2 separate regions of the Homo sapiens genome follow, and region 2 is linked to region 1. A link means that fine-mapping ties the variant in region 1 to the expression of a gene that starts in the linked region. Tissue or cell type: whole blood. Region 1 holds a variant in brackets; the other region holds the start of a gene. All regions are shown on one strand. Distances are between the middles of the regions.

Evidence for each region. PIP is the estimated chance that this variant, and not a neighbour inherited with it, causes the effect.
Region 2: it holds the start of WWC3, and the variant in region 1 is fine-mapped to the expression of WWC3 in whole blood (TOPMed, PIP 0.96). The same link has a PIP of 0.9 or more in blood mononuclear cells.

The regions. Positions count from the first base shown.
Region 1 is chrX:10,097,326-10,100,010 of GRCh38, forward strand. It overlaps WWC3 (WWC family member 3), which reads left to right. Exons shown (of 24, transcript NM_015691.5): 9 at 1,181-1,254. Among named protein-coding and RNA genes, the nearest start is that of CLCN4, 58 kb to the right of the region's middle. RefSeq lists an enhancer at 1,059-1,108. The variant G/C (reference allele first, on the strand shown) is at 1,022.
Region 2 is chrX:10,013,844-10,016,528 of GRCh38, forward strand. WWC3 (WWC family member 3) reads left to right here and starts at 1,411. Exons shown (of 24, transcript NM_015691.5): 1 at 1,411-1,830; 2 at 1,833-2,015. The coding sequence starts at 1,736. RefSeq lists enhancers at 1-409, 410-1,293 and silencers at 1,114-1,283, 1,324-1,383.

The DNA of each region.
Region 1 (2,685 bases):
ATCATTCAAGTTGAATATTTTCAGATACTTGTTGATGGGAAGTTATTTCAAAAATGTAAAGACTTGGTGGCCATAATATGTGATCTAGTAAGGTCAGATCAACAGATGGAGCTGATTTATTGAAACTGGAGTTGTGTGAATATTTGCAGGAATGAGGAATTAACCAAAATGTACTACAGTTACTTCCTGTACATGTCTTTTTTTGTTTTGTGTAGGATTTTATTGTCATCAATGTAACTGGTACAAAAATATTTAAGTATATCTACTCGTCACAGAGCACCGCATTTAGGCTAACTCTATATTGGTACTCCCCGAGCTCTGGCTTTTTGAGACCTTGCTTGCTTTCCTTTTGCCCTTGGTTCTTTTTTTTTTTTTTTTTTTGAGACGGAGTCTTGCTCTGTCGCCCAGGCTGAAGTGCAGTGGCTCAGTCTCGGCTCACTGCAAGCTCCGCCTCCTGGGTTCATGCCATTCTCCTGCCTCAGCCTCCCGAGTAGCTGCGACTACAGGCGCCTGCCACTACGCCCGACTAATTTTTTGTATTTTTAGTAGAGGCGGGGTTTCACCGTGTTAGCCAGGATGGTCTCGATCTCCTGACCTCGTAATCCGCCCGCCTCAGACTCCCAAAGTGCTGGGATTACAGGCGTGAGCCACCGCGCCTGGCTTGCCCTTGGTTCTTTAACACACCTCGTGGCATCAGAAGGCGTCCACCAGCCCATCCGTCACACAGCTAGTCCAGCTTCCTCAGACCGTGGAGCTTCTGAGTAGAACATCATTATTTTACGTTTACTGAGGAATTAGAGAATGTACTGCACAAAATCGGGTGACTGGTTTTTGCCTTTGTATCAACTTTTACTAAGTAATTTCCTACTTCTTTTAAAACCTAATTTGTGGTTGTTGTTTGGAATTACAGAATAGATAGATATGCTGCTGCTGTAAAAAAAAACAAAAAACCCTACCAGTTTAGGCAAGCAAGAGTCTTCCCTTCCCCCTCCCCCCTCCCCAGCCAGGGGTGGCCGCAAAG[G/C]GTTATTCAGTGTTTCCTTCCAGACCTTGCACAGATTGAAAGTGAAAGAGATGAAGAATATTTCTCATTGCTGCCGAAAGTTTAAGTGAAGTTGCTATTTTGGAAATATGTTTTTAATATGCGTTTCCTTTCTTTTTTTCTCTCTTCTGTTCCGGAAAGTTTGTCTTTGATGATAAAACAAGACTTGTAGACCGAGTCAGACTTAATTGGCAATATGAAGAAGCCAGAAAGAGGTAAGAAGCACTTTTTTCCAACCTCGCCTTCTGCTTACTTACTTACTTTCTCCTGTGGAAGGAAGCGTGGCATAGTTCCTGTGTGTGATTGGTCACGTCTCATCGGAGAACAGCGTTTGATAGAATACCAAGTCAAGGATCTTCATTTACGTGTAGCTTAATACATACATATGACAACATTTCAAGTGCATTTAAAATGTGAAATTTGCAATATTACAAACAGTTATACAGACGTGATTCCATAAGAATAGAAACTTTTTTGGCTTTGTCATCCCCGGTGGTTCAGAACCTCTACCCCTCCTTCCCTTCCCTCCTTCCAATAGACGAGCATCAGTTCCAGAGGGTGTCATAAGTGAAACCACTTGATCTTTTATATGTGTGGCTTCTAACTCCATAAGCTAATGGGCAAAGCCATGTATCTTGGTTATAAGACATTCAATAAGCATTAGGTCAACAGGTGAGCAGTACCTAATTGATTTCATTCCATTTATGTTGTCCTGTGTCGTAAACCATTGGCCTCCTGCAAATTGCAGCTTGACCCACTTTGTGCACTTGTGTTTCTCTTTCCTCACTTCCCTCCCTCCCTTCCAGTCTTCATCCTCTGACATGCACAAAGCTGAGAGGCTTCCGAACCCTCGCATGGCATAGTATTTTAGGGCGTCACGTGTCTCCTCAGCTGTGCAGGGCTCCCGTTTTCAATATTCTTCTCCTCTCTGACTTTTGTATTCTCTTTTTAGGGACTTTCTCTAGTTTGTGCCTTCTGGAAAGAGTCTTAAAGCCAAATTATTTCCAAATAAGTGCTTCAGAAGAGTATCAAGCATATCTTTTTTAAAAAGTTACTTGAGTCACAAATGAAATATTGTCATGGGGGGCGGGGAGAGCAGAATAGCAGAATGTCGGGTGGGGTGAGGGAGTTCTTTCTGGAAGCTAAACAGTTAGGCCTGCTCAGCACACTGTACCATTCATGGACGTCTGGAAAGCTACTTTGTTGGCTTTTTAAAAAATGTAAAAATAGCAACAAAAGCACATCATATGATTCAGTGCTCCAGGGCCAACTTAAACGGACATGGGCCTTCTGTTTTCTAGGAGGTTTTCTAACCAGTGCCTCTTGGCTTTTTAGGATGGACTCGTGGTGGGCTTTAAATTTCCCCACAGAACAGTGCCAAGTTCATTTGGCAATACCAGTTGTCTGTGTGGTGATTCTTCATTATCATGCATATTCCTTCTCTGTAGCCTGCAAGAGTTTGTGAGGAGCGATTGTCTCTTCTGAGTATTCGTCTGCTCTTGCCTGTTTCTGGTGAAACTGCGGAGTGTGGGTGCTGGAATTTGCTACACTTAGGAACATGATTGTTACGTGTTTGGTTGTGACATTTACCAAACATAGCAAGTGATTTCTTTGTTTTCTAGAGATGGTGCCAGTATATGGTGAGT
Region 2 (2,685 bases), 83 kb before region 1:
CATGCTGGCCAGGCTCGTCTCGAACTCCTGACCTCGTGATCCGCCCGCCTGGGCCTCCCAAAGTGCTAGGATTACAAGCGTGAGCCACCGCGCCCGGCCCATTCTTCTTTTTTAAAACAACCTTTCCCCTCATAAAAGTAATATTACCATTTTACAAAAAATTGGAAGGCAAATCATTTTTAAAAATCCCGCCAAAGGAATGCAAACTCTTGTGAGCATTTCAGGACATTTTCCTCCAGTCTCTTCCCCTGTGTATCTGGATTTCAATCAGGCTCTACCAGATATTTTTGTATCACTGTAACTGTTTAAAAATCTCCCTGATACTGTCCTGCATTTCCTGGCATAACGTGTTGCGGCTGTGGGTCTGGGGCACGAAGTAGGTGGGAGATTTAGAGCAAGACACAGCCCCAACTCTGGAGCTTCAGCTTCCCCAGCTGGGAGCCAGTGAAACAGAAGTTCCCGTCTAGGCTGAAAGTTTTAGGAGTTGACCCGGCTTCCTCCCCAGCAATGGTCTACTTGGGTCTCCGCTCAAACGATCAGACCCCACAAACCGGATGAAGCGCTCAGGGAAGGTCAAGGAACTCCCGCCTAGTGTGGGCCCCCAGGTTAGCCCTTCTAGGGCTGTCCTGGCGGGGACGCAAAGTGGCCACCTGCCCAGCTGCCCGCTTCCAGAGGCGTCCTCCCTGCGCCGCCCGAGAGGACCGGCCGCGGGCTCCCCCAGCTCCTCAGCTCCCTCGGCCCCGCCTTCAGGGGCTTTTCCCACCTTCGCGGGACCAGACGGGTTGTGTGGGAGACCGAGGGCGCAGCCTCCCGCCAAGTGCGCAGAGGGTCTCCAGACAGCCAGAGCCCGGGAGCGGGTGAAGGGAGGGCACTGCCCGCTCTCTCGGGAATTGTTTGCGCCCGAGGAGTCACCCCAGGCAGGCCGCGCCCGCAGTCCGGGTAGGGCGTCGTCCTCCCCGCCCGCCTTCCTCTACGCGGGGGCCCGGGGGCGGACTGACGCGGCGGCGCCCATCCTGGCCTCCATGCGGTTTCCCGAGGCCGGAGGAAGGTGGCGGAGCGGGAGGGAGAGAGCGAGGAGCGCGCGGAGAGGGAGGACGGCGGAGGGGGAGGAGCAAGCGGAGGGGTGGGGGTGGGGTCGAGGAGCCGAGCGCCGAGGAGGACCCCGAGGGAGACTGGGGGCGGAGCAGCCGGCGACGGAGAGGCGCGGAGGACGCGGGGCCGGGGGAGGCGGAGCAGCGGGAGTGGGTGGAAAAGCAGAGGCGGCGGGAGGAGCGGGAGCCTCCGTGGGAGATTCGGGAGGAGCAGCCGGCGTGGGTGGAGCCGCCGGCGTGGGAGGAGCCGCGGGGCCTGGGTGAGAACGGGGCGGGACGGCCGGAGGCGGGGCCTGCGAACGCCCTGCCCCTGCTCGCCCGGGCCGCGCCGAGGAACGAAGATGGCCGGGCGCGCCGCGGGAACGGAGGGGCGGCCGGCAGCGGCGGCGGCGGCGGCGGCGGCTCCCGGGCTGTGACTTCGCGCGCGGCGGCCACCCGGGCTACCTGAACGGAGTGGGCGGCGCGGGCAGCGGCTTGCTAGGGCGGGCGGGCGGACGCCGGTGCACGGGCGCCGGGCGGAGGATGCGCCAGGAGCGGCGGGCGGCTCCCCGCGGCCGCCCCCGCGCCCCGGGCGCCGGGCCTTAGTGCTGGCGGAGGAGGCGGCGCGCGCGGGGCGGCCGGGCGGCGGCGGGGCCCGCGCCGTCATGCCTTGGCTGAGCGGCGGCCGGCGGCGACGGCGGGGACAGCCGCGCGAGGCCCCGCGGGAGCCGCCGCCTTCTGCGCAGCCCCAGCGGGAACCGCGCCGCCGGCGCCCCCCGCCGCGGTCCCCACGCCCCCAGCTCCTTCCGCGCCGCCGCCGCGGGCCCGGGAGAGCGCCGAGCTGCCGCTGCCCGCCGGCTGGGAGGAGGCGCGAGACTACGACGGTCGCGTCTTTTACATTGACCACAACACGCGCCAGACGTCGTGGATCGACCCCCGCGACCGGTAAGCGGGCCGGCTGGGGGCGCCAGACCCGGCGCGGGCGCTACGACCCGGGCCGCCGGCCGGCGCCACCGCGGATGCGCTGGGGACACGCCCCGCCCAGCGCGGGGCCGCCGCCGAGAGCCCCCGGGCCCGGGCAGAGCTCGGAGCGCCTCCATCCCCGGAACCAGGGGACTCCCTGGAGTGCTCCGGTCCAGGCTACGATCGAGGCGCCCCCATCCCTTGGGCCCAGGGAGAGGATCGGAGACACCAGGAGGCCCTCGGGGCTGGGTGAAGATCTTTGGTTCCGGGGGTCCGGGAGAGGATCCACCCTCCCAATACCCCGACTCCCAGGGCTCTGACCAAGAATGGAGGTGCCCCTTCTCCAGGCCTCGAGCCCTCTGAGCGCCGAGGCCGGCCGCCTACAGGTCCCCCGCCGCTGGGCGGACCCTCTCATTCGGTTCCCTCACGTCACCCGCTGTCCGGCGCCTGGGAACTGGGCTCCTGGAATTTCCTCTCCTGGGGCTGACAGATGGCCCTCTTTTCCTTTCTCTGCGGCAGCCTCGCCCATCCCGGTCCCGGGCGTCTGCGGCCCACTGCCCCGGCCCTGGTTCTGCAGGTGTCCCCAGCCCCGCGGTGGCGAGATGAGCTGTCACCTTGGATCACAAACGTGCGCCCCAGCTTTGGGGTGCGG